Linked DNA regions of Homo sapiens: all the other regions are reported to be linked to region 6. Evidence: microRNA targets listed by miRTarBase, many of them from high-throughput screens and not tested one by one. Region 6 holds a microRNA gene; each other region holds the end of a gene's coding sequence.

Region 1 (3,183 bases), not on the chromosome of region 6:
TAAAAATGCAGGCATGAGTTTTGACCCAGTGAGCAGAGGCTAGGAGGGCCCTTAGGAGAGAGGTGGAGGAGCTCACACCATTGTTATTCACCTGCGGGGCCCACAGCTGCTCCACTTTCTGAGTGTAAAAACAATGTGGCTGCTGTTTCCCTTCTGCCTCTACGTCTTACACCAAATGACCCCTGCAGCGCACCCCATCTGGAAATATACAGAGAATGGAATTCTGGAAACACACCTCAGTCTTGCTGTGCTGACACGTTACAAAAGCATCATGAGGTGCTGCTGTGAAGCTGACTTAGAGGGGGACCGTGCCAGGGGCAGGACCATCAGCTTCCAGAGCAGTCACAGGCTTTGAAGTGTCTGGGGGGTTCCGGATGCCACAACAGAGGGGAACCCAGAGCACTGCGAGAAGACAGAGAAGGACTCTCAGCCAAGAGGGTGGCTTCTCTTGCTTGCGAGGGGCAGAGACTTTCTCAGTGTACTGGAAATAACAGGTCTCAACCATGCTGTGAGGCCTCGTGGGAAATCTGAAAAAGCCACAAAATGCCTGTGCCTTTTTTTTTCTATCACTGTTTCCGCTAAAAGGTGAAATAAGTGAAAGAAAGATAAAAATCCAAGAGATTGAAAACAACTGGCTCCCATGTGAGACCGGGGTATGACGACGCAGGGAATGACTGGGAAGTGGCGGTGTCATTAGACTCACACATCTGAGGTCACTTCCTCGCCATGCTCAGATGAGCCGTCTTTTCACCCATGCTGACGGACTGGAGCCCAGAGCCACGCCGCCATGATCACGGAGGGCCAAGGGCTTCACCACACTCCCCTGGTCAGGGCCCAGCTCACCCGCAAAGGGTGCAGCGGTCCATATGTCTTCATCCCTATTCCTATATCCTGGAGAAATCATTTGGAAGAGGGACAGACAAAAATAGCAGCCTGCTAGTCTCTTAGGAGCTTAGCAAAGAGAACTGGGTGGGATGGCGAGGGGCCATCCTCCAGGAGGAGTCTGAATGTGAGGCATTGAGTACAGACTCGAAGCTCCGCTGCAGCCAGCTCTTCCTGGGGGAGGACAGGGTCCCACCCACCCAGTTTAAGGAGGGGTCTAGAGAAACTTACACCAATCGGGGCATATAGATTGCTCAGGGTACAGCGAAGCAGTAAAGGTCTAACACGCAGATGTCCAGGTCAGTCCTCTTGGAGGGCAACCTCTGCCCTTGAAGTCTTTGGTCACCAAGATCCCCAGAGCAGGCAGGAACAGTGCCCTCAAGCCTCTCCACTTCCCACAGCGGGTGGCGGGCCAGTCTCTGTCTCGGCACTAGCAGACTCTGCTCCTCTGCCATGGTGAGGGTGCTGCCCTTCCACCTCCCATGGGCTCTGGAGGCTTCTGGCACTTGCTAGCCAGTGTGACTTTGGACGGGTTATTTAATCTTTTCTAGCTTGAGTTTCTTCATCTGTCAGGTGGGTTTCGCAGTTGTACCTGGCTCATGTTTGGGGAGCACGTGCTACCACACAGGAAGATGCTCTGCATGGTATCTGGTTCACAAGAGGTGTTCGACAGAGCTTTGCCTCTGTCAGCTCTTGGCAATCGTTAACACAGCCTAAAACCCAAGCTAAATGCAAGCTGCAAGGCCACCGTGCACCTGCCTTCTGTGTCAGCGGCCAGAGCCCAGGGTGGCGCAGAGCAGGTGCTCTGGTGGGAACTTGTTCAGCTCGGTGTCCTTCAATGCACTCTGATTCTCTAACCCTTTAAAAACTGTTCTCTCAGCAAGTCTTAGGTTGGCCTGAGGCATAGAGAAGAGAGATATTATCCCCCGCAGACTGAGGGGAAACAGAGAAAGGAAGACGATGCTCCAGTTAGCAAGTCTCTGCCATGGCCCCTGGCCTGGCTGCCCCACAAGGTCAGGGCTCACGCCCCATGGTGCAGGCTCATGGCTGAGCCTCCCCGGCACCAGGGCAGGCCACCGTGAAGGGCTCAGTGCTCTCACTGACGAACACTCTCTCTCAAAAAAACTCTACTCTACTTGCTCCGGCAAACAGGCCCCGGCCGCACTCTCTCCCCCTGTGTGCTGGCGTGTCGGGTGCGGCCTCCACCGCCTGTGCACTGGGACACCAGGAACATGCCACGGCTGCTCACGGGTCATCATTTATTGAGATGAGAATTCACATAAAGTAACATCATACAGAAAATCGTTTCCAGGCCTTAAGAAAAATGATTGTCACTCACTGTGCTTCACAAAAATTTCTTTTAATGAATAAATAATTTGATGAAATCAAAAATATTTACAATATAAACACATGGAAAAGCTCTGGGTCCGTGAATCTGATCGTTGAGTTTTGCATTTTGTGAACTGAGTCCTCCCCCAAGCTTTTCCCTTGGAAACAATACAAATCTGACAGAAACGACGACTCATACAACATATCTTTGTTCATTACACATTTATCTGTTAGTCCTGGAAAGCTACATAAGCATATATTATGCAACATGTTAAAGTACAAATATTACCTAAAATAATATATTACCATAATGCCAGATAGCATTCTCCACAGAACAAAAACATACACTCAGCTGTAACAATAACGAGGGTCACGGGCCACAAAATAATACCCCAAAGGTACAAATTCCTTCATAAGAATATAGTTGTGCTCTTCAGTTTACCAGCTGTCTACGCTGCTCTAGGAAGCCGGTGGCAAGGAGTACGGGATTTGGCAACTGTGGCTGTGTGTGTGTTTCTGTCAGGCAGCAGCATTACTGGGATTGGGCAGTGCAAGCAATTTTAGAAACACTTTCTTGGGCTCTTAAAAAGAGCCAATTATGCAAAGCAAAATAAGCATATTGAGAAGTCTTCATCTCTTTTGCACAAATACCATGGAACGTCTTGGCTTTGTGGTATGAAAGGGATTGTTTGCAGAGCTGTTTACACCATCAGCCAGAATTCAAGTATTCCAGGGCCACCTCGTAGCAGAACTTGTACTGATCCTGGAAAACAGGAGGGGAAAGTGTCAGCTCAAGAATATCTCAACGCTGTTCCTAGTAAAGCAATTACCATAGAGTAGGGTCTTAATGGGAAGACATCAATCTGGGAGGATTTGAATTAGAAATGAATCAGAAAGTCACGGTTCTGAACTCCAGATACATTCACTGTTTGGAGATGCTCCCCACAATGCTGGGTGGAAGGTATTTTGCTA
Region 2 (3,183 bases), not on the chromosome of region 6:
AAGTGGAGAGGAGATAATGGATGGAAAGGAGGCAGGGAAAACTAACAGGTTTTTCGCCTGGCGGGTAGTTAACAAGGTCGATGGAGAGGCAACTGACTAAAATAGAGAAGCTGGTTCATTGGAAACAGAGATGACATCTTTTCCTTTCAGACAGTTTGAGTTTAAGGTGTCAACAGGACATCCAAACATATATGCCCAGTAAGCACATGAATATGAAACTCAGGGAAGTGGTTGTGGGGAGTCACCAGCAAATAGGTGGTGATAAAGTGTGTTAGAACAGTGGGCTAAGGATAACAGTCCATAAAATATAAACATTATTTTGGGTTAATATACAAAATGCAATGAAATTCAAACGACATGAAAATACAGAAAATGAAATTTAGTACTGTGAGAATGAAGAATTACTTCTGATATTTAAATAGTATGTTCCTACAGTTTAGAAAAATGAGGGTACTAAAGCACATTTTGATCCAGTCAGGACAAATGCCCTCTATACACTCAGATTGAGTCAAAGTTTTTACAAAGGTATGCTCAGAAAGACCAAAGAAAATTTGATGTTATCTTTAACAAATAATGCAACATTTTCAAAAAGGCCATTTTTATAACACTTTTTAAAGCATAATGAAAACACTTGGCTCTCAAGATTGTCCCAAGAATTATCCCCAATAAAATGCAGTAGGTTAATGATCTGATGTCAGGGTGCTAGCTGGTCAGGTTTATTCTGTAAGTAATTTTCTCCTACTATCTAGGATTTTGTTTTCACAGAATGGTAAAAATGTTAACACAGGTCTGCCGTATCCATTCAGCAAAACAGCATGAAGTGACTTGACTTGTCCTGTCACTTGTGGAACAAAGCCTTCTTTAAAAACTAAATGGTCTACTACAATTTAACAGCATCCCACCATCAAACTCTAAATATGAAAGATGAAGTAAGCAGCCACCAAATATAGCAATTCCGGCACTAAGTGAGTACCTAGAGACCTGCAAACTTCCTACTTCTGTCCTCCACTGCCATGTAGAATTTCAAGGTATCACTTCAGGGTGGGAGGTGATATAGGTTATCAGTATTTCTCTATAGGGAGGGGGTGCTGTTGACATTTTTGGCAGCACAGGTTTTTTAGTGTGTGGACCTGTGTTCCCCTCACAACTCAATGTTTCACATTCCAACTCTGCCACCAACCCTTCCTCCAACCCCCAATCCGAAGAGTGCCTCCACTATCTAGAGACACAGAATATAAAATACTTCTGTGTCCCACCAATTATCACACATGCTAATTTCATTTCTAGAATGGTAAAAATGAAGCAAAGACTAGTATCTACTCATAAGCATAGAAAGTTTGACATTTTCTTTTTTCTGTCAACACCTAGCTATTAACATCAAAGGCTGGAATCCTGGATGGTCAGTTCCCTTTGGGCAGACCCAACCTAACCATTTTTGCCATTTTAAAAAAGTGTACATGAGATTATCAGGTAGACTCAGTAAAGCACGACTGGTCCACCTCTAAACAGCAAAGACAAACACATCAAAAAGTGACTGTGATTCTCAAAGGACAAAGCCCACTCCCAACTCCCAGGGGAAAATGGACCTTAGTCTTGTTTCACCTGTGTAATTGGAGGCAGAATAGGATGTGAATTCCGATGTGCTCTGCGTCTGGTTCCACACCATCTTACAGTGAAAAGTGCTGAGTGACTGTAAACCCAACAGGAAAAAACATTCAAAGTGTCATCACTACAGAAACAAACCCAGCAGGACCACTTCTGCATGCAGGCAGTATTAGGTCTCAGATGCTCCCTTTCTGCCTCCTGATAGAGTGGATGCAGGAACTTTGGGGACATGATGAACCACACACAAAATGAACGAAATGGCAGAGCACTCTCATTTTGGAAAGTTTCTCTCAGGTAATATCCCATCACTGCCTATTAAGACTAAAGGATTAAGTACTAATTTACACTCATAAGGGACTAATAAAATTTCCTGGCCTGTCACTTAAGGAGAAAAACCAGCAGACCAGACGTGAAGATAAACCCTCAGAGCTACTAATGCCTCATTCAGGACTCTTTCCCACAGATTAGTGTTGAGATTATCACACGGCTTACACAGTAGGGAGGAAATGCATAGCCAGGACTCTTACCAAGTCCGGTAAATAAGGAATACCTAGATACTACTGTTTCTGTCAATGCCATAGACACTTAGATGACCCGTTAATTTTACTTCATCCCAACAATGACCGTGCAGAATCTGCGTCCCTGACGCAAAGCAGGAAGCAAATATTTGGGCAAGAAAATAAAGTCAGTTACAGATTTCACAAGTATCTTGTACACCAGTCTGTAATTTTTAATTAGAATTAGCTAAAAGACATTGTACCTTTCGCGTGTATGACTGAGCATAACAGTGCTTAACAGTGTCTTTATTAAGTGAATGCCTGAAAGTATTCAACATTAAATTCAATTTATTTCACATTAATGTTTGCAAATACATCATCAATTCTTACATATTTCAAATCAACTTCAAGTACAGAAGGCTTCCTCTCAAATAAGTCTCCTGAGGTGACATAAAGACTGAAAGAAGCCTATGACTTGAGTCCAAGTCTCTTAACCAACAATCACCATATCGTCACTGGTGAACTCATACGTGGGGACTTCAAGGTTGAGAGGAGCAGGACCCAATCTGATCCTGCCAGATGCATCATAGTGTGACCCATGGCAAGGGCAGTAATAACCACCAAAATCTCCTGCATTTGCAATGGGTACACAGCCAAGATGAGTGCAAACACCTATCAGGATAACCCATTCAGGTTTCTTTACTCGATCTAGATCATGCTGTGGGTCCCTCAACTGTGATAATTCAACTGCAGCTTCCTGCTCAATTTCCTTCTGGGTTCTATGACGCACAAACAGGGGTTTGCCTCTCCATTTGAAAGCCATGTTCTTGCCTTCTGGAATATCGGATAACTTGATTTCGATTTTCGCCAGGGCCAACACATCAGCAGAAGCACTCATGCTGGAAACGAACTGGGTGACGGCATTCTTGGCAGCATATGCGACACCCACAGTAGTTACTCCAGTTACCAAATAGGAGAAACCTTTCCTAGCCTCGCTGCTTTCTCTTGAAGACTTCGTACTATCTAAAACTTCAAGGCGGCGGTATTCAGAGAAGTCAGGCACCTTGATGTCTGTGTGGGA
Region 3 (3,183 bases), not on the chromosome of region 6:
GACAAGCACTCTTATCACAAACACATGGATAGCTTATCACGGAGAACACATTTCAAAGGCCAGCAAAGTGAGCAAGCTATTCACACAAAGCCAGGAGGGATTATGACTAAACTCTCCAGTTTATAAGCACAAGTCCACATCTCACCTCCTCAGAACAGGTGCTCAATGGCAATTAACTAAAAGTTATGACATGAACATTACAGACTTTCCAGCTAGCATTTTGTAAACAGCCTGTGTCTGTAAGTCAGCAAATTAAAAACATTCAGTTGTATCCTCTAGACAGAACACCACACCACTACATGTACACTTACAGGCTTTCACATTTTATGTCAGTTCATACACAAATGTACAACTTGTCAGATACGTAAACACATTTTGCCAGAAATATGACAGCTGCTTTCAGTTGTACAGTGAGTGTCTTTAAGAGAGAAACCGACTCCCTAGTCAACACTTGAAGGAAAAATAGTTACATTTACATTAAGACAGAGTTTGGATACCTTTATATTTTTCAATCTTGAATGAGAAGTAATAATACAGCATGTCTGAGAATAGAGCGCTTCAAACTTTTTTTGGCATAGTTAAGTGCAAACTTGATAACCTGTACTTGTCACAACTCTCCATTGTAAAATGGCGAAAATATAGGTTGTTCACGATAGGATTTTAAACTGCTGCTAAAGGCAATTTATTGTTTCGGCAAAAAAAAAAAAATTGCTAAGAAGCTGTGTAAGCTTTTTTTTTTTTTTTTTTTTTTTGCATTCGTTTCTGATAATTCTGGGTACTTCCAACTAACAGGTAAATACATTTTAAAGAGTATATTCTTCTTCTGTCTGGAACTACTCAATGAGCACAAAGAAAACATTTTCTGTCTTCCTTAACAGATTTAGGTATTGGTGGGTGTGGGGCACAGAACATGAGCAAACAGCTTCTGTTTATCCTCTCAGCCACAAATTCGCTTTTAGGTATATTTTCCTATACCCTTTTGCAAATTACAAAATCACCTTCAGAGGAACTATGGGTAGATGGGATTCCAATATGCATATCTGGCAACAATCAGCTTCAAATCAAACCCTTTCTGGGGTGGCTAAGATCCAGCTAATGTGTCATCAGCAAAGGCCTCTAATATGTGTTTGCGTAGTAATGGAACAGTTTTTAATTGGGCCTGTTTATAGTTGACTGACAGTAAGTTCTATATGGTATATAACACTAATTCTCTAGTCTTCTGGGCATATCTACGAACAAATACAATCCAAATATTATGAGTAACTGGGTTGTGACCACTGCATGCATTACACTGAAAGAAACACCAACTCGAAGCACAAATATATTATTCTTATATTTCGGCTCAGCTCTCAGTGGGGAGAGCAGCTACCTCGGACCACAATGCCATTTAAACCAGATTCTTTTCAAATAAAATTCTCAATCTAAGTGGAAAGCCCCCTCAGAGAATGCCTTATTCCCCTACTAAGCAATCCAGGCTTGTATAAAACGTCTGATAAGGCCTGTAGTGCCCATTGAGTATGAGTCTGCTGTTTACATTCTGCACAGGCCAGGAGGGGAACAGAAGGTGTGAGCCACAGGTGCTCCTGGGTCTGACCAGCAAGTCTAACCCATGAAGATCTCGAGCTCCAAAACCATTCTAGAGCCCACCATTTTGATTGTTACACATGTGTTTCAGATGTATGTTATGGCATATCTGAAACAGCAGAGTTCTCAGTTTTTTGTGTGTTTGTTTTTGCTAAGCTAAACAAGTTTTGCTAGAGTTCGCTAAAACAAGGTGCTCAGAGTGTAAGCTCCTCTGTCAGGAAATCGGCAGCACTGGTCACGATAAAGGAGAAATCGTCCTTTGTCAAGCACAGAATTACTCCTTCCAGCAGCTCTACATGTTCCCATCCTCAAGAAATTGCACCAAGAGTGAGCTACCTGCCTATCCCTGGAAAAGATTCAGAAGCTCCTAATCCAGAATCCAGGGAGGAGATGAGCTTCCTGTGACTCTTCTCTTTTACTGGGATGTTCCCCTGACCTCTCATCACACTTTACTGTGTTGTGAAATATTGTTTCTCTTAGTTTGTAACTTGTCTGGTCTTTTGACTAAACAACTATCTAAAGAATATAGACCACACTCCTGCAGGGAAAGGGATGTCTTACTGGAGTTGTATTTGGAAGCTTTATAAGCACATCTGAGACGTTCTCTAGAATCAAAATATTTGTCTATATTTGTTTTTGCAGTTTTCTTACATATCAGAACCTCTGGCAGCCCTTGCAAGTCCATTATATTAAAAGCCAAAAGCCATAAATATGTACATCATAGTTCAAAGTATAAGTACCAAGAACAAAGAAAGTTGTAAAAAATGCTGTGTTTGCATTTACAGGACTAAAAACTAAGTATGCAACAGATAAATTACAAATGTACATCTCAGCAGCATAGGGGTGATTCTCTTATCTTTCTAAAAAACACACTGCTGTCTATAATGACAATCCAATTGTGGAAAATTACCAACCTCAGAAGACTTAAAGGTCACCACCCCCGCCCCTACTACCTTTCCCTTTAGCCTCTCCCCAGCAAAATAAAGAAAAGGGGGAAAAAAATAAATCCTTAAAAGTGGAAGGGGAGAGAGAAAAGGCCATGTTTGTGAGGCTGCACACTCAAAGCACACCCAGCTTGCGGATTTCTATGTTATTAGTGAATAGCTCTTTAAGGCAGAGAAGAAACATTCTGTGGATCCGGTGCTGTTGGCTCATCTCACTCACGTGGTTTCGGTGGCCGAGGATGAGGTACTTTTCTTCCTGAAGCGAGATCGAAGGATTCTAGGCGGTGCCTGGTAGAGAAAACAGAAAGGTGTCCCTCAGTTTGGTGTAAATGTGGGATCTTTTGAGGTCAGCACCTGGAAGGCATTGTGTTGAGACTTCCAGCTCCTTTGGCCAAATGCAGCTGGCTAGGGCTGGGGTCTCCCTGAATCTCCGCAACAGGAAGCAATCATCAGAGTCCCATCCCACATATCGCATGAAGCTGAGCCCTTTGAGAGGCTGATGCCTCCCTCTTAAATTATGCTCCTCAATCTCCCAAGGGAACGGTTGTGCAGAATGACACATCTTTCTTGTTTCTGCCTGAGGAGCAAAATTATCTTAAATGATTCAGCAGAAAGAGACACCTCCGCATGCTTCCTTTGCTTTTGTTATTTCCTT
Region 4 (3,183 bases), not on the chromosome of region 6:
CCATCCTGCTATTTTAACAGGATACTTAATCAAAAAAGTATGCTACTTTCTTAAAATTTTTTGAATAATAACCTAAATTCTTTGTTTATCTTTTAGGTTATAAAGTTTTAGCACTTTTGGATGTGCCTGATAAGAGTCAAGAAAAAGCTGATTTATACATCCATGTGACATACATCAAAAAGTGGGATATATGTGCTGGTAATGCCATCTTAAAAGCCCTAGGGGGGCATATGACTACCCTGAGTGGTGAAGAAATCAGTTACACTGGTTCAGACGGCATTGAAGGGGGACTCCTTGCTAGCATCAGAATGAACCACCAGGCCCTGGTCAGAAAACTCCCAGATCTAGAAAAGACAGGACATAAATGAGCATAACTGATTACAGGGTACAGTTCTTCACAGCTGAAATGGTTAGCCTGAGATGCTGGAAGCTTCAAAGGATTGGTGGAGACTATGCATGGTTAAGGCCATCCCGAACTTTTTAAAGTATTTATGAAGCATCAGAGACTTATTTTCCCTGTAATAGAATGCAAAATCAGGGAAAATGGGTTGCTTTGTGTCTCAAGTATTGTCTTTATTTTTGAGACTATTTTCATACAGTTGTCATACACAAGGCGCATATATATATTTGTGAATTAAAATCTGTAGCTGAGTCTACATTGTTATGAGTCACCATTTTCACACAACATCATGAATCTTCACTGTTAGTACTTTCATATAGAATTCGGTTGAAGGAAAGATTGATTTTTGTGTAGATGTTTAATATAACTTTACAACTATATCTCATTGAAAATAAAGTCATTGGGGATTTTTACCTCTAATTTGGATGGAAAGCACAAGAAGCCACACATTCATTAATATGCAACAAATGTTGTATTTATGTTACTGAATATTTCTATGGATTAAAATAGAAAAAGTTTAATTGATTTTTTCTTTTAAATTTTAATAACAGGTTCACCAGCTGGTAGAAAATAGAGACACATGATGATTTGCATTGTAATAATTTCTGTGTGTATGTGTGTGTGTTGTTTTGTTTTTATAAAGAAAAGTGTGTTTGTACCCATGAGTTCAGCATTTCTGCCATCTTGCTATTTTCATTTTCCCTGTGGAAGATGCATGGTTGCATCCTTTTCCTTCTGACCAACACTTAGTCTTTAACTTTGTAAGGTTCGGTTTAAGGTTTCAGGGTTAGCACTATAGTTTTGGTTCATTTTCTCATTAACGATAAAATATGCTGTAAGGCACTATAAGAATATAAATGATTCTATTACAATTGAAAGTTACTTGACATTACATGAATTGAACTGCCTTTCATTATCTTCAGACACTTTGTTTTAGTATTTTTTTTTAATTTGCTAGGTTTGTATATAGAAGATCCTTTCATTATCAAGAATGAGTATGGTTGCTTTTGCCATGGTTGCTTTTACTATTAATAAATGTATCTAGCCTACCCAAACTCTGTAGTAACTTTTGAGATTCTCTTAATTTCCCCTCAGATTAAAATAGAGAAGGTTGAAGGTACTTTTTGATGAAATTTTTTTCTAGTCTGGTTAGAAAAAAAAAGTTGTGACATATTCATTGTGTTACCGTAACTAGAACCTTGCTTTGTGAACTGTCTTTCATTGGGATGTATGGTTTCTCTCAATGTGAAATCTGGAAACTTCATGTAAACTACCCATGCCGTTATTTCATGTGACTCCAGTGCCCTTGTATTCCATAACATGCTGATGAGAGGGATTTCTCACGGTTTCTTTCTTTGCTAAATTTTTTAACCATAAAGCAGCTTACCCTTTATTTTCCCATCTTGGAAGTAAAATTGACCAAAGAATGTACGTTCTAGCCTGGTGGAATGTGCATACTTTAGGTTTGTATGTTACATTGTCCAAAGCCCTTTACTTTCTTATTAGTAAACTGAATCTAATATGACACAAATGTTTTCACCCAATCTCTTGCAACTGGTCAAATTCGAGAAGGTGTTGGGCCTTAGCAGTAGGCCTTTTCAGTGAAAATTCATTCAAAGTTTTGGTAGGTGGAACACTTGATATTTAAATAGGACTTGAAAATTTTGAAAAGAGTATCAGAGACCTCATTTTTTTCCTTTGCAATAAGCTGAAGAAACTTTCTTTTTCAGGAGAGATGGCAAAGGTATATGCTGTTGCCAGAGTCCTGTGGTATAAGCATCTGTTTTTATTATAGTATGTCAAAGTTAGGGAAATGGGACTGGCAAGTAAAAAATGGAATTTAATTTCAATGTTTTATGGGAACTCTGATTTAATGGGAAGCAAACTAGTTCATATTAGCAGGAATTATTTTATTTTTTCGAGACAGAGTTTCACTCTCGTTGGCCAGGCTGGAGTGCAATGGCGTGATCTCGGCTCACCGCAACCTCTGCTTCCCGGGTTCAAGCGATTCTCCTGCCTCAGCCTCCCAAGTAGCTGGGATTACAGGCATACACCACCACACCCAGCTAATTTTTTTGTATTTTTGTTAGAGACAGGGTTTCTCCATGTTGGTCAGGCTGGTCTCGAACTCCCGACCTCAGGTGATCCGCCCACCTCGGCCTCCCAAAGTGATGATTTTATTTTTATTTTTAATTGTATTAATCTGCATCTAGATAATGACTTTGTGAAGGGTGTGTGTTGTGTGCAAAACTTAAGGTATTGGTTGAGAGTTAAATACATTATTTTTATAATATGTTGGGTATAGTCTAGTTACTAATGATTTTTTTTAAGTACTTTTATAAAAAGTTCATTTTTAAAATTGTTTGTTTTTAAAAGCCAATATACGTTGCAGAATTAGGAACAGTATTTATATTTATTTACACAAGACATTGTGCCATAGCATCCTAGTAAAACACCTTCATGAATGAGTAATGTTATCTCCCAGAATTACATTAAAATTATTTCTAAAAAGTAGCAAAGTCATTACCTTTTGCTTTTAATGACCCACACCTCACCAGCTCCTGGTCTTTTCTTCACTGTTGCCCTTATTTTGAGGCAATTTTTCTTAAAATATGACTTTTATGCACCACATTTAGTAGAGGCAGTGACATCAGTGATCTCAGTACCCATCAGCTGTCCCCCTCCTCTGCCCTTCTTCATCTCTTCTACCTTGTGACCATTTCCCTTACCGGTTCATGTTCTCCTTTATCTCTGCTTTTCTTTCTTAGCCAGGATACTTCCCT
Region 5 (3,183 bases), not on the chromosome of region 6:
AGCTGAGCTTGTGCCACTGCACTCCAGCCTCGGTGATGGAGTGAGACTCCGTCTCAAAAAGCAAACAAACAAACAAAAAAACTCGACACATGCTAGCTGCTTCCTACAAACCAGGTGATAGAGGCTAACAGAGATACAGCTTTGCAGAGATGACAAACAGGAAGTGGAGGAAATGGGAGGTGGATGGAAAGCCTGTTTTTTCCAAATTGTTTTTGGTCTTGTCTTTTCCTTGTTAAATTCAAAGTGATTTTGGAGGAGCATACATATGCTGTACATACATAGTAGAATTGAAAAATCATGAAGTGAAATTCAGCACAATTTAGAGTTTGGAATCATAGTTTTACAAAGGGTTCAATGGTACAGTGTTAATGCATGCATATAAATACATGTAAGTATGAGACTCAATTCTTAATAAAAGTATTTAAATTTTGTCTGACAGGATTTGAACTTCTCGAAGAGCTACCAACACCCAAGTTCAGCTTTGGAGGCAGATCTGGAAACAGTGTAGCAGCATTGGTTTTCCAAAAAATGTGAGACTTTTTCTTGGACGAATTCAGGTAGCTACACAGAATCTACACAGCAAAGTTAACCTGACACAGAAAATCCTTGTGCAAATAAATGCTTAGTAAGTACACAGGATGCACATGTTGAATAGAGTATACTGGATTGGTGAAAGAAAATAATAATAATGAGCATCTAAGTGGTTGGGTTTTAGAGATCAATCAAGAATAATTTTAATTTTCTTTTGTATTTGAAATGTAAATAGTTTTCTTTTCGATTAAAAAAATTTCCTATAACTGCTAAACAGTTAAAAACTTTAAAGTAGTAAATGAGTTTATAGAAAGCATGTATTCTTGATTTTTGTGCCTTGGTAAAGTTGATAACTATTTATGAATATTTGACCAAATTATTCCAGCATCAGAATAATAAGCAAAATAACTTTGTTAGTGTTTTGTTAGACTGTTTATGAAATATAACAAGAAATACTATTTTGTGTTGGATGGCGGTTATTTTTAAACTTAATTAATACCTGTGAAAAGGCCTCTTACCTTTATGTATATAATTAAACAAAATCAGAGAAATGTATCAGTTGCTCAAGTTATCAAGCCTGCATTTTGCAGCTATGGTCTTCTACACACTGTAAGGGTAGTAGAAGGAAAGAGAACTAAGGAATGTTATTATTTGCTAGCGCTATGTTAAGTTGTCTTATTAAGTAATTGAGTCCTTTCAATGTCTTCTTGAGGTATGTATTGCTTGTTCTTGTTTCTACGTATAAGGAAAATGAAGCTGAGAGAAGTGAAGTCACTTTTATGAGGTTCAACAGTACAGGATGGAGCCAGGATTTTTATCTGGGTCTGTCTGACTTTAAAACACATACTCTTCTCCTAGCATATTCTGCCTCACAGGTGCTTAGTCTTTGCCTTTGTAGCATTTACAGTACAGCTGGAGACCCATGATGATTACATATAAAGTTCAGTTAGAAAAGATGGGTAGTTACTTTATTAGTGTTCATCTGTGGAGTATCAGAATAGCAGTCAGCCAACTCTGTCTCATATCATCCTTCATTACTTTTCCCCATCTCCCTACTCAAAGACTTGCCTCTATTAAGAATTTTGTCATTCTTCTGTGAAAGGGTAGTGTAAGTTATATAAGCCCTCAGCGATACATGCACAAAGATGTTCTAGTTAGGGGCTAATTTGGCAAGAGAAACAGTTTATTAATGTTTTTGAAAAGATAAGTCATATTCATACTTAATACCATTTTGTATTTGTGGTAATATTTTAATATTGGAGCTAAATACAAATTTTTGCATAATTTTTTGATGATTTTCAGCTTTGTGGGCCTATTGGGTTACATAAGTGACTTTTTGTTTGGCAAATGTTACTCCTGTATTGAGTAAGTCTAACATTACGTCCCTTTTCTTTTTGGGGAGGGGTAGCCAGAGGAGTGAGTTTTTCATTTAGATCAACATTGATCAACCATTAAGACAAGATAGTTGAAGACATGTATGTGGACTGTCAACAAAAATAACATTTTTTGAAAAGCTTTTATTTTCAACATGTAAAAAGTGAGAAATTACTTCAAAATATATGCAATTTAAATTTTTTAGAAGATTGTGTTGATTTTACCAAGACAGGAGATCTTAAACTGTAGAAACTTTTATAGTTTTTGAGATCGGGTCTTTGTTTTTTTTCACATTAATATTCTTTGATTTCAAATATAACATAGATAAGTACTCTTAGAATTTTGAGTTAAGTATATGCTATTTTAATGTGCTAATCCTACAAACTAGGCTTTCTGTGTGACTAGACTGAGATGTTGAGTTTGATTCACAAAAAGCTTAGAATGGTTCTTTGTTGAAAAGCTTTTCGAGTCACTATTTGGGGCATGTTAGTGCCATTTGCAAAGGTGAAGGTTTTCTTTTTTTTTTTTTTTTTAACCATAGAGCTTTTGATAAGGTTAGGAAAAGGAAGTTGTCATCTCTTCTTATTACTCTAATCCTGCTGGAAGCTAGCTTCTTAGGGACTAAAACCAGAACAAATGGAAGGTCCAAAAATGCTAATAAGAAATTAGTATTTTCACATAATACCAAACTGTAAAAACCAGGCCAGCAAGTGTCACCAGGTTCCTGAAACAAACCATAAATACATTATTTAACTTAGTATTGTTAAATTGTATAAATATGTGGGTAACTGTGACAGAAATTATGCACTTATAAAAAGCAGTAAGTTACATAGTGAATGCTGTTTTCTGTGGATAAGAAGCTGGAATTGTGATTTCATTTAATCGAAAGACGCTTACTTTGAGGAAACTTGTTTGAAATGCAAACGCGATTTCTCTGTGGAGCCTTCACGGAATTGCTGCTTTTCACTATGATTATTGCTGCATAACAGGCCACTTCTGTGTGTAGGAAGTGCGTGTGCAAGTCCAAAGGGAATTGAGGCCTGAATGGGTGGGTTATCCCAATTAACAAATACAAAGTTTTCAGTACATTTTGTTTTAAGCCAGGTGCACAAGTTAGAGTTGCTTTTTGGGACTGGCATTTATGTATGTGAGAATCAAACCTGATATCACTCTTGGCAGCCTGACTAAAGCCATTTAAAAATAAGTACAAATTGTCCTTGAATGATTTTTTTCCCATTGTAGTAGCACTGAATTTTCCTTTTTTCTTCATCTGTGGTA
Region 6 (3,183 bases):
CTGCCAGTGAGAGTCTGGGTTGCTTTGAAGCCTGAGTCTCCCAAGGCAGCTCCCTCACCTGTTCCCCCATGTCCACCCCCACCTGCCATCCAGACAAGACTATTACCCTAAGACCAGACCTTCTAAAGGCGTGGCCACAGAATCATCAGTATCCCAACATCTTGCCTTTGTATCGTGTGTTTACATACTTTTCCAAATACTTTGTTTTTTCTTTTTTTTCTTTTTTTAATTTGTGACAACCTTGAAAGACAAACAGAGTTAAGGCAGTCCAAAAAATAATTACAGACAAGAAAACTGGGGCCTCTGGAGGTTAAGGATTTGTCTGAGGCTACTCTCTGGGGGCTCTTCCTCCAGGCCTCATACTGTGTTCCTTATGTCATTACCTGTTCATCAGAACCGACTATGCAGTAGTGACCAGAGCAGGAAATGGAGGTGAATGTGTTTGGTTACAAAAATTCCCGGTGAAACTGGCTAGTCTTATGATGAGCTTTGGCCTATACATTGGACACTTCCTGGGTGAGGCCCAAGATTGGCCCCAGGATTACTAAATAGTGACTATAAGTTACCCAGCCGTGTACAAGTCAATCTGCACAAACCAAAAAAGCATGATTTAAATTCATTTTAAACCTCTGTCCCATGTTTGTTATTTTCTGTAGATTCAATCAAATTATCTTAAGGAAACAAATGAAGTGTCAAGCTATAGGGGTTGACTTAATCTAGTCACTCACTCAATGGAACCTTTTTCAGCCATTGCAAATAATAATGATAGAGAATATACAGAAACCTGGAAAATGCTTATGATATCAACTTAAAAAAAATCAGGGCCACAAAATCACATGGACACCATGATTGAAAAATAGGAGCAGAACCTGGAGGAAACCTGCAAAACAGACATACTTGTTACTTAAGGGTGGTGGGATTAGAGCTGAAGTTTCTTCTTTCTCTACTTTTTCATGGTTTTGTGTGTGTGTGTGTGTGTGTGTGTGTGTGTGTGTGTGTGTGTGTGTGAGATGCCACGTTTTCTTGTTATGTTGTCAAAATATAATTCTCTAAAAAGTCTTTAGGGGTCATGGGTGATACAGAAATTTGGGATCGGTCAAGGATGCACAGATCTCAGACATCTCGGGGATCATCATGTCACGAGATACCAGTGTGCACTTGTGACAGATTGATAACTGAAAGGTCTGGGAGCCACTCATCTTCATAGCAAAACATGTGGTAAGTATTACAAGACGAATCAATGAAAAGATCAGGAGGAAAGTGGGCCCTAAGCAAAGAAGAAAGGGGTTGCTATGGGATGGGGTGGGAGGATGAGTTGTGTTTTCATAGGAGTGTAATGGGAATGCCTTTATTTGTGTCTTTATTGCTTTAAATGTTTGTTGAATGAATTGAAACTTACATAAGGTATATGATTTTATACTTGTGCTAGAATGCTAAAATAAAGAATTTATGCTCAAGCAAACAACTGGAAAACACTTTGCTATAAGCATTACAGACACAGGGTCATTTTTAGTATGTTGAGTCCACACAAGTGGTCAAGAAAAACCATAAAAACTACATGAACAGAAAGCCCCAGTTAAAAAAAATGCATAAAGATGCTCATTTCAATATTTTAAGGATGGAAGTTAGGAACATCCTGAATGACCAACAACAAAGGATTAGACAAATAAAATACAGCGTAGCTAGCTAGTACAATAGAATAGGATGCTTTCATGTAAAATAATGTTTCTGAAAGTAATTTTCATGTCATGAGAATGTGCTCCTGATAAAACATTTAGCGATTGAAAAAAGGTGCAAAATATTTTCCCATCTCTGCAATATAGGTATATAGGGAGCATTCTGTATGAATAGTTTTGTATCAACATACAGATAAAAGGCTAGGAGGAAACATATAAAAACTTTATTGTGATTATCTCTGAGTTGTGGTATAAAGGTGACCAAAGAAAGATGCTAAACTATTTTTGCGATGTGTTCCTAATATGTAATATAAATGTATTGGGGACATTTTGCATTCATAGTTTTGTATCAATAATATGGGGAAAAGAGGCTATCAGGAAGTATACCAAAAGTCTAGAGGTGGTTATCGCTGACTTGTGTCACTATAGGCAATCAAAAACGATACTAAACTGTTTTTGCGATGTGTTCCTAATATGCACTATAAATATATTGGGAACATTTTGCATGTATAGTTTTGTATCAATATACAGATGAAAAGATGGAGGGAATAAGCAAAAAATCTAACAGCGGCTATCTGTGGTTTACTTCTGTGATAAATGTAAGATGCAGAATTATTTTTGCAATATGTTCCTGAATATGTAATATAAGTGTATTGGGATCATTTTGCATCCATAGTTTTGTATCAACATATGGAGAAAAGTCTAGGAAGAAATATACCAAAACTTGTAACAGTATTATAGTATAAAATTATAGGTAATGTTTGTTTTTCTCTTTATACTTTTATGTATTTTCCAAGTAATATTTGCATAAACAATAAAATGCATTGCTTTTATAGCAATAATAAAACATTTTATTTTTAAAAAGAGTTTGTATTTTTTTTAAAGCATGAACCCCTGACATAAGGGTGGGGGAAGACTTCCTATTTGGCCAGCAGTGGGCCTAGAATACTTTTTCAAACATATCTGGGAAACCTTTGTACAACTTCAGTTGGATCTGCAGTGCAAATGTGTTTTCATTTGCTCTTGGCAAAGAAAAGAGAAAGTATAACTAAAAAATATAACCACGACAGAGTTATAATAGTAATATTAGTAAACAAACTGCTATCTATGTCTAATCAAAGTAACATTTAAAGAAGTATAGAAAGCTGAAACAGGCTCCTTTTCCTCTAGTAGCAATTCAGGAAGGTGGTACTTGGATGCTCGCCCAGGGCCTCAAGACGCATTGGCCAGTTTGAGATATGCCCAAGTCAGGAAAACACCTTATTTAGGTTATTTCCACTCAGCCAACTTCTTGCAGATGCGGGTAAAGCCCCCCCTGCATTTTCCCGCAAATTCAGCTGAGCTCCATAGTAACTCTGGTGTTGCAGAACACATGTGACACCTCAATTTAGGCGATCCTTGTTCTGGTAAGAGATGGAACCATTTGGTCACGTACCTGGCCCATGGTCTGAAGGGCACCTACCAAGGTTTTAGCGTTCCTCAGTGGCACTGATTTGGACAGAGACAC

Evidence for each region. Region 6 holds the annotated microRNA hsa-miR-450b-5p (UUUUGCAAUAUGUUCCUGAAUA, at 2,293-2,314, shown strand). A microRNA usually pairs through its seed, bases 2 to 8, with sites in the 3' UTR of a target mRNA and lowers its output. Matches are read on the target gene's strand: a 7mer-m8 pairs with bases 2 to 8, a 7mer-A1 pairs with bases 2 to 7 and ends in A, and an 8mer does both.
Region 1: the mRNA of PTPRM is a reported target of hsa-miR-450b-5p. Seed matches in the 3' UTR shown: 7mer-A1 at 2,849-2,855 and 7mer-A1 at 2,330-2,336.
Region 2: the mRNA of UQCRFS1 is a reported target of hsa-miR-450b-5p. Seed matches in the 3' UTR shown: 7mer-m8 at 2,467-2,473.
Region 3: miRTarBase lists REEP1 as a target of hsa-miR-450b-5p. Seed matches in the 3' UTR shown: 7mer-A1 at 2,219-2,225, 8mer at 978-985 and 7mer-A1 at 749-755.
Region 4: the mRNA of BPNT2 is a reported target of hsa-miR-450b-5p. Seed matches in the 3' UTR shown: 7mer-A1 at 528-534 and 7mer-A1 at 2,644-2,650.
Region 5: miRTarBase lists EEF1AKMT2 as a target of hsa-miR-450b-5p. Seed matches in the 3' UTR shown: 7mer-m8 at 2,402-2,408.

What each region holds. Positions count from the first base shown.
Region 1 is chr18:8,405,900-8,409,082 of GRCh38, reverse strand. It overlaps PTPRM (protein tyrosine phosphatase receptor type M), which reads right to left. Exons shown (of 33, transcript NM_001105244.2): 33 at 2,227-2,974. The coding sequence ends at 2,921. Among named protein-coding and RNA genes, the nearest start is that of RAB12, 200 kb to the left of the region's middle. RefSeq lists an enhancer at 1,858-2,502.
Region 2 is chr19:29,204,956-29,208,138 of GRCh38, forward strand. UQCRFS1 (ubiquinol-cytochrome c reductase, Rieske iron-sulfur polypeptide 1) reads right to left here. Exons shown (of 2, transcript NM_006003.3): 2 at 365-3,183. The coding sequence ends at 2,593. Among named protein-coding and RNA genes, the nearest start is that of UQCRFS1, 6.6 kb to the right of the region's middle.
Region 3 is chr2:86,214,295-86,217,477 of GRCh38, forward strand. It overlaps REEP1 (receptor accessory protein 1), which reads right to left. Exons shown (of 9, transcript NM_001371279.1): 9 at 1-2,816. The coding sequence ends at 2,745. Among named protein-coding and RNA genes, the nearest start is that of MRPL35, 16 kb to the left of the region's middle.
Region 4 is chr8:56,960,978-56,964,160 of GRCh38, reverse strand. It overlaps BPNT2 (3'(2'), 5'-bisphosphate nucleotidase 2), which reads left to right. Exons shown (of 5, transcript NM_017813.5): 5 at 97-3,183. The coding sequence ends at 368. Among named protein-coding and RNA genes, the nearest start is that of BPNT2, 31 kb to the left of the region's middle.
Region 5 is chr10:124,757,760-124,760,942 of GRCh38, reverse strand. EEF1AKMT2 (EEF1A lysine methyltransferase 2) reads left to right here. Exons shown (of 7, transcript NM_212554.4): 7 at 440-3,109. The coding sequence ends at 440. Among named protein-coding and RNA genes, the nearest start is that of FAM53B, 15 kb to the right of the region's middle.
Region 6 is chrX:134,539,362-134,542,544 of GRCh38, reverse strand. It overlaps MIR450B (microRNA 450b), which reads left to right and starts at 2,283; the gene lies at 2,283-2,360. MIR450A1 (microRNA 450a-1) reads left to right here and starts at 2,114; the gene lies at 2,114-2,204. It overlaps MIR450A2 (microRNA 450a-2), which reads left to right and starts at 1,938; the gene lies at 1,938-2,037. It overlaps MIR542 (microRNA 542), which reads left to right and starts at 1,108; the gene lies at 1,108-1,204.